2 linked regions of the Homo sapiens genome follow. The protein of the gene in region 1 purifies or fractionates together with the protein of each later gene. This does not show direct contact. Each region holds a gene or a part of one and is shown on either strand. Other genes may lie near its edges.

Region 1 (3,755 bases):
GGGTACCATATTTGCCTTCTCTGACAAATTTACTAACAGTTTTCTCCTTCCCTTTTATTGATCATGGATAATTATATGGTTCCACCCTTTACCCTTAACTTGTAGTTTCTGCAATCACTTTTATTTACATGACTTCTCAATATGTGTCTTGATATCTTTTTCTCAGCTCTGATCTCATGCTGATGACTCACTACTGACCATTTGCTCTTACATGTACTTTCAGCACATGAAAGTCAGGTCTAAATTCTACCTCTTTATTTATCTCTTTACTTCCTTATTTCTAGGCCCTGGGGTTGAGACTTTAGTAACCTTTGACACTTGGTCTTCCCTCTCGATTCTTCCTTTATAACCATTAATCTAGCAAATTTATTAATCCTCTATCACTACAAATACTTGAGGCCTAAAGAGACAAGGTTGTCCCAACTAACAGATAAACAGGTTTGATTTTTTTAATTCAAGGAAATGTTCTTGTGCAGAGTAGGATAATAAAAGTAACCATTTAATATAACTCGTGAAAACTAATGGCATTAATATGTGTAAAGCATTTAGGATAGTTCCTAGCACATGGTCAGCACTTACAAAGTATAACATATTAGTACTAGTATTAGTATTCTTAATACTAATGATACTAAAATATGATTGGATGATGTTTTTTAAAATGTCAGCTTTGCACTTTGTGCAGATTACTCATTTTCTACAAATGACATAATGTATATAAAACTTTCTGCACAGTGGTTGATACATATGTGTTTATACATGGTAATTATTCCCCAACATAGACCTCCAAGGTCCCATCTAACTCTAGAATTCTATATTAAATACATATATAATTTATGCATAGGTTTGTATATCAATGAGTTGAAAATAATAAAAGTAAAGTCAGATTAAGTATAATGCAGAAACAGATTACTGCTGATATTGCTTTCTCAGGAGTGAATGAAGGCCATTTCAAATGAAGACCTTTCAGTTGCCATCTTTTTTCTCTGATCAGGTTCTGTAATTTCTTATGAAACTTGTACTTGGTCTTCTTGGTATGCTGTGATGGTTGCTGCAGTTGGGTCCAACCTTGTGCCACCAGAAGTCTGAGGGTTAATGTGTGTGTGTGAGAAACATTGTATTGACTCATATTCATGTGTCACATATGAAATCACACAAATTAGAATGTAATTTTGAAAAGTTAGGAAAAAATAGAAATAAATAAAACAAAGAAGCACTATACAGAAATCCAAGTTTTGGAAGGAGGGCAGTTCTGCAACAAAAGGAACAGAGTTAAGAATAGTTCTTCCTACACTGCTTCCTGCTTGGGCTTCATCTGCTCCTCAGGCAACAAGACTTTAGTAAAGCCCCAGTTGAGAGGATTTTGAAGAGTAGTTTCCATGGCAACAGGCTTTAAAATGACATACATCCAGAAGAACTTTTCTTGGTTGTTCTACCATCCAAACAGGAATCCTCTAAGGCTCCCAGAGAAAAGTCAACTTTTAATGAAGCCGGAGTCTTGCTTTCTGTGCCCTAAGGAGCACCTTTCCTGTGGGACTCATTTCATGCTTGTAATAATGACTTATTTTCTTAAATTGTGAGTTGACTACAGTGGGAATGAGAGCAAGGATTGAGGTTTCTCATAATCACTGAGGGAGTGGCAGATTTCTAGGTATAAGAGTTACACTTGAGGCATCTTGTTTCTGAGCAGTGACTAAAATACATTCCACATGTGGCAGAGGAGCAAGCTCTGAGGTATGTTCAAATGTTACCCAGCACTTATACACAAAACACACACACGTGTGTGCGCACACACACCCACTACACACACAGGACTGGAAGAAGGGTGGTAATTAGCTTGCTGCATGGAGGTCAGACAGCTGCCAATGGGGCTCTAATTGTGAAGCCACCACTTCAGCTGCCTTATCCTGACCAAAATGTACCTCTCATTAACTGAGTGCTGTTTGAAATTTCATAACTAGAGATCTATTTTTTTTTTGCTAAAGACTTTGTCTTCATTTTAAGAAATGCCTGGAAGAGGGTGAAGAATGTGGATTGTCCCCAGCAAGTTGTAGTAGACTGTGTGCTGATGAATTTGTGAGATTCTTCTTGAAAACTTAGTTTTGACAGAGAATTGAAGGAAAGTAGCACTAAGATTGTGAATGTTGGGGAAGAGGAATTTTTGCTGAGACTAGGAGACTAGAGATGGGTATAGGAAGAGAAAATGGGAGGCTGTAAAGAAACCCTTACCTGATTTTGGAATTTGGCTTTTGTGGTGTGATAGAATGTGGATATTTGAAAAATAGGCATTGGTGGTAGGACAGGAAGTAGGGACAGGGTAATATACTCAAGGGCCTGATGTTGTCTGTGGATTGGGTTATGTTGGAGAGACAGGCCTTAAAGTTTGAAGAGTGTATTGTTCCCAGGCTCTTCTCACTCTTGTCAGCTGTCTCCTCTGCCCTATGGCAGACCCTCTCTTGTCTCTTTCAGGCTCATTCAGCTTTAAGCAAGATTTTTCCTTCCCTCATGCCATCCCTAGGATATATGCATTTCATATTTGTTTTATGTCTATTTTCTACAGCATTTATCAGGGCTCTTTCTTTTGTCAACCACTCTTCTCGGCTCTTCCACTTTCATGATTTAATTTAACTCTCACAACAACGACACTGTGAATTATCGCCATCATCCCCATTTTATAGATGAGGAGATTGAGAATTAGAGATTAATGAACATTTTGTGAGCTATATGATTCAAAGATATAAAAGTGAATAAAACTACAATGTTGCTAGCATCATTATAGTTCATGGAGGGACAGGACAGTAATACATTGTGAGTAGAGCTGCAAGAGATCTAAGAACAAAGTACTGTAGGATTTGTCGTGGCTAATCCCTATTAAGGTGTGAGCCGATAATTATTTGAGATTACTCCTTCTGGCATTTAGGTGTTTTGATAGGTCATGCTCAAGACATAAAAATTCTCTGAAACATGGTACTGAATAATTTCAGGTCCTTGATGAATTTACTGATGCATATTTAGTTTCTTGTCCTGGAATCAAAGAGACTTGGGTGAGGATGCTTCCTCCCAGGTGGAGTAAGGAACATTTTGTTGAAACCTGATCCGAATACTGTTTTAGGAGTACCTTAGCTGGGATTTCCATAAAAAGCTGTGCTGGGGACAAGGCCATACATGCAGATAGCTTATTTTTAGAAGTCATCCCAGGGAAAAGAGAGAGAGAAAAACAGGGAAGTATAGAAAACCAATAAAAGGTTCTGTTATATGTTACCTTAATGGGGAATTTAGGATTAGTTCCTCTGAGATCTTTTGATGTACTAAGAAGAATGAACCACTGGAGATACACAAAAGGGAGACATTTACCCACTGACTCCCAGGGGTGTTAATTCCTTCACGCTTACAGATCAGCACGTGCACCATAATGGCTGAATGGATTCTCAGATGTACCACTTTGTGGTGGCAGAGGTGTCCTAGGGCTGAAAGGAGGGGATACGTAGTGTAGTCAAGAAACATTGTTATTGGGCTATAGCTGGATGCAGCTCACTGCCACAGCAACAGCAGAAGCCCAAAAGATAGGCTGAGTAATATAAAATGAGGCATAAAACATGTGCAACACAGAGAGCTTGGTGATGGGACCTGAACTCAGACCTGGTGAAAATATTCAGGATAGTAGGCAGAGAACAACACAGCTAGAAGACAGGGCCAGCGTTATGTGACTTGTCATGTGCTAAAAAGCTTAGAAAGGCCTTTTGCTCCATTTACCTGCT
Region 2 (3,655 bases), on another chromosome or scaffold:
CTTCACCATGTTGGCCACGCTGGTCTCAAACTCCTGACCTCAAGTGATCTGCCCGCGTCAGCCTCCCAAAGTGCTGGGATTACAGGCATGAGCCACTGTACCCAGCATGCAGCGTTTACATTCAAGTGCTCATTAAGAAAATAAAAAGTCCTGCAGTGAGAAATTTGTAATACATATAATGGATAAAAAACTGATGTGTAGAATTCACAAAGAACTCCTACAAAATCAGTAAGACATAAAACCTAGTCAAAAAATGGGAAAAAGACTTGAATCAGCATTTCATAAAAGAGGAAATACAAATTAACAATAATCAAATAAAAAAAGTGAAACCTCATTAGTCATCAGGGAAATGTAAATTAAATCCATTATCATGATACCACTAAACATCCACTAGGATTGCTAAACCTTAAAAGTTTAACAATACCAAGTGTTGATAAGGATGCAAAAAAACTGAAACACTGAAACACTGCTGGTGAGAATATAAACTGAAACAACCACTTTGGAAAAATGTTTAACAATACCCATTAACGCAGAACATGTATATACTCTATAATCAGGCAATTCCAATCCTTAATAGATATCCAAACAAAATTAAACACACACAAACAAACACATACATCTAAAGGGACACATACAGCATCAAAAGACACACAGCAGCACTTTTCATAATAACCAAAAAACTTCAATGACCATTAATATTAAAATGGATAAACAGATTGTGTTATATTCATACAATGAACTATTGTACAGGAACGGGAATAAACTACTACTACACACAACATGGATGACTCTCACAATAATACAATGTCAAGTGAAAGATGCCAGACTCATGAGTACATACAGTATTATTTCACTCACATGAAGTTCAAAAATAGGCAAAACTAATCTATGGCTCAGTATAGCAGTTATCTTTGGGGTATTAGAAAATAACTGAGGGGGATGAGGGAGATTTCTTGGGCACCAGTAATTCCTATTTCTTGATCTAGTAGTGATACCATGTGTGCCTTTTTTTTTTTTTTTTTTTTTGAGACGGAGTCTCACTCTGTCACCCAGGATGGAGTAGAGTGGCACGATCTTGGCTCACTGCAACCTCCGCCTCCCGGGTTCAAGCAATTCTCCTGCCTCAGCCTCCCAAGTAGCTGGGACTACAGGCGCATGTTACCATGCCAGCTAATTTTAGTATTTTTTAGTAGAGATGGGGTTTCACCATATTGACCAGGCTGGTCTCGAACTCTTAACCTCATGATCCGCTCCCCCCTCAGCCTCCCAAAGTGCTGGGATTACAGGCATGAGCAACCGCACCTGGCCAATGTGTGTCTTTATTTTGTGAAAATTCACTAAGCTGAACACTTAAAATTGTGCACTTCTCTGTTACGTTTCAATAAGTTTTATTATATGTGAAAAAAAAGGTCCTGGAAAACCAACATCCATTGATATGACAGTTTTCTGGACCAACGGTAGTCTTCTGGAAGACTGAGTGAATCCAATGATATACACAGTGTCAAAACAGCTCCCCTAGACTCTCAACAATGTGATATGTTATTTACATGTCATGCAGTTTTGTCACATGACTTTTTAGAAATCTCGTTTTTATAAAGCAGCTTAAATCTGGATTTTGCAAAAACTCAAAGCCATTTACAGTACTTTATTTGTAACAGCATGTTATCAGTAAATTTGTTTAGTTGTGTTCTAAACTCTTGTTTTTCTAATCAGCTTTGATTATTTAAAAAAAGTGGCTTCTCATATCAGTTATATGTTTGATAGCAAAATCTGAATTAGAAATACAAGAAGTTCACAGGTTTCCTTAATAGTATAGATTATTCTTACCTCAGTCTTGTTCACTCACTAACCAGCTTCCCACTGATTTTTTACCTAGTTACACTGGAGAAAAAGAACTATGCCTGGGTAACAGTCCCAAACTATACTCTATAAGGGCTGAGTGAGCAAAAGCAGCAGGGGGTGACTGAAATGGCAATGACATAAGCTAGTTAGGGGAAACGTTTTCAAAACAAGGTGGATAATGTGAGTAGGATCCAATTCAAGGATTAAAAAGCCATCCTTATCAAAGCTGCAGATGAAAATGCTGAAGAGGGATATCACATACCTAAAACAATATAATCATCATTGACCAAGATTTCAGCAGACTGAAATGATGGTGCAAACCTAACTAGAAAACAATCTAAAGAGAAATGTAAAGTCTTAGAAAAAGGAACAAGAAAAACAAAAACAAAAAACCAACCACACAAGTTCAGGATAAGAGAGACTTGGCTTAATAAAAGCTAATGTGAAAAAGACCTGGGAAGCTAGATTGATGTTAAGTTCAACAAGAGTCAACACTGTGAGAGTGCTGAAAAAAACAAACAAAAAAGCAATTTGTTAAGCTATACAATATAAGCACATTATTTATAATGAAGTTGGTACTAGGCCCATGCTCCTCTGCATCTGAAGTAAGTGTTCATTCTGAAGGAGACTAACAAACTAAAGGCCCTTCAAAGGACAGTGAGCAGTACAGCAGGATGAGGTTAGAAACAATGTTAAGATGAAAAGAATCTGAGTTGTGATTGGCAGAGCAAACTGGGTGAGGTAGGGTGAGGGAGACATGAGGGTAATAGTTTTTAAATAACTGTAGTGACATGCTGTAGAAGAGGCATAGGATAATTCATTCTGTGTTGCTCCAGAGGCAAATCTAGAATCAACAGATAAAAGTTAAAGAATCACATTTAGGTTCAATGTAAAAAACAAACTTTCTAGAATCAATGCCTTATATGGCAGTGTTCCTAATCACAATGCCAATGTTAAGCATACAACTGCTCATCACAGAAAGTACAATGGACTTAAAGTGGGTCAGAAGTCCTTGGATTCTAATCTCATCTTGACCATTTACTAGCTGTGTTATATGAGGCAAGGTATTTACAACCTCTCTGAATCTCAGCTTTTCTTATGTATTTATTTACCTCCTGATATCACTAAGAGGAATAAATAAGATGATATGTGCAAGACTCATTGTGACAAACTGAAATGGAATACAAACGTGCGTTGCCGTAGACAGATATATTAGATAATTGCTAATATCCTCCCAGCACAGAGATTATTAACTTGAGAAGTTATTTTCTTCTGAAGACAAAACTTAAAATAGGTCCTAAATTCACACAGCCAAGATTTAGTAGGCAAAGAGAGAAAATATTAACATGACGGAAATCAAGGGAGCAGGAAATGTATGTTTCATGAGGTGTTAAGAATGTACTTCTCTGATAGCAAATTAGTTACCAGATCTAAAAGGCAATGCTCATTCCAGGAGATTAAGAACGAATTCAAATCAAGATGATACACATGCCAAATAAGCACTGACAGTATAGGCTTGAATCATGGCAGTAAACAGAGCTTAAATAGTACTTTTGCTTTGGGGACCCTCTAGACTCAACTGTACCTATTCTGGGGTTCTACTCACTCTGCTAAATAATCCTGACTGAGCAAGTTACGCAGTCCTCTCAGTGCCATTTTGTTAAGAGTAAATGGAGAATAATCTGCCTACTTCACAGGTTGTTGAGAAGACTTCCATGAGATAATAATGTGTGTAAAGTCTCTAGCAAGGCTTCTTGGTACACAGAGGAATTCATGTTAATTGCCCTTTCTCTTAACTTTGATTGTGGATGGA

Evidence for each region. Proteins that work in one complex are often made in the same cells at the same time.
Region 2: the proteins of OR8B8 (region 1) and YLPM1 purify together in Homo sapiens (affinity purification with mass spectrometry; one large-scale study listed by BioGRID and IntAct). This does not show direct contact.

The regions. Positions count from the first base shown.
Region 1 is NC_000011.10:124,443,552-124,447,306, reverse strand, and holds the start of OR8B8 (olfactory receptor 8B8), read left to right. Parts: upstream 1-1,610; 5' UTR 1,611-1,731; intron 1,732-3,755. UniProt on the Homo sapiens protein: Odorant receptor. May be involved in taste perception.
Region 2 is NC_000014.9:74,783,733-74,787,387, reverse strand, and holds part of YLPM1 (YLP motif-containing protein 1), read right to left. Parts: intron 1-3,655. UniProt on the Homo sapiens protein: Plays a role in the reduction of telomerase activity during differentiation of embryonic stem cells by binding to the core promoter of TERT and controlling its down-regulation.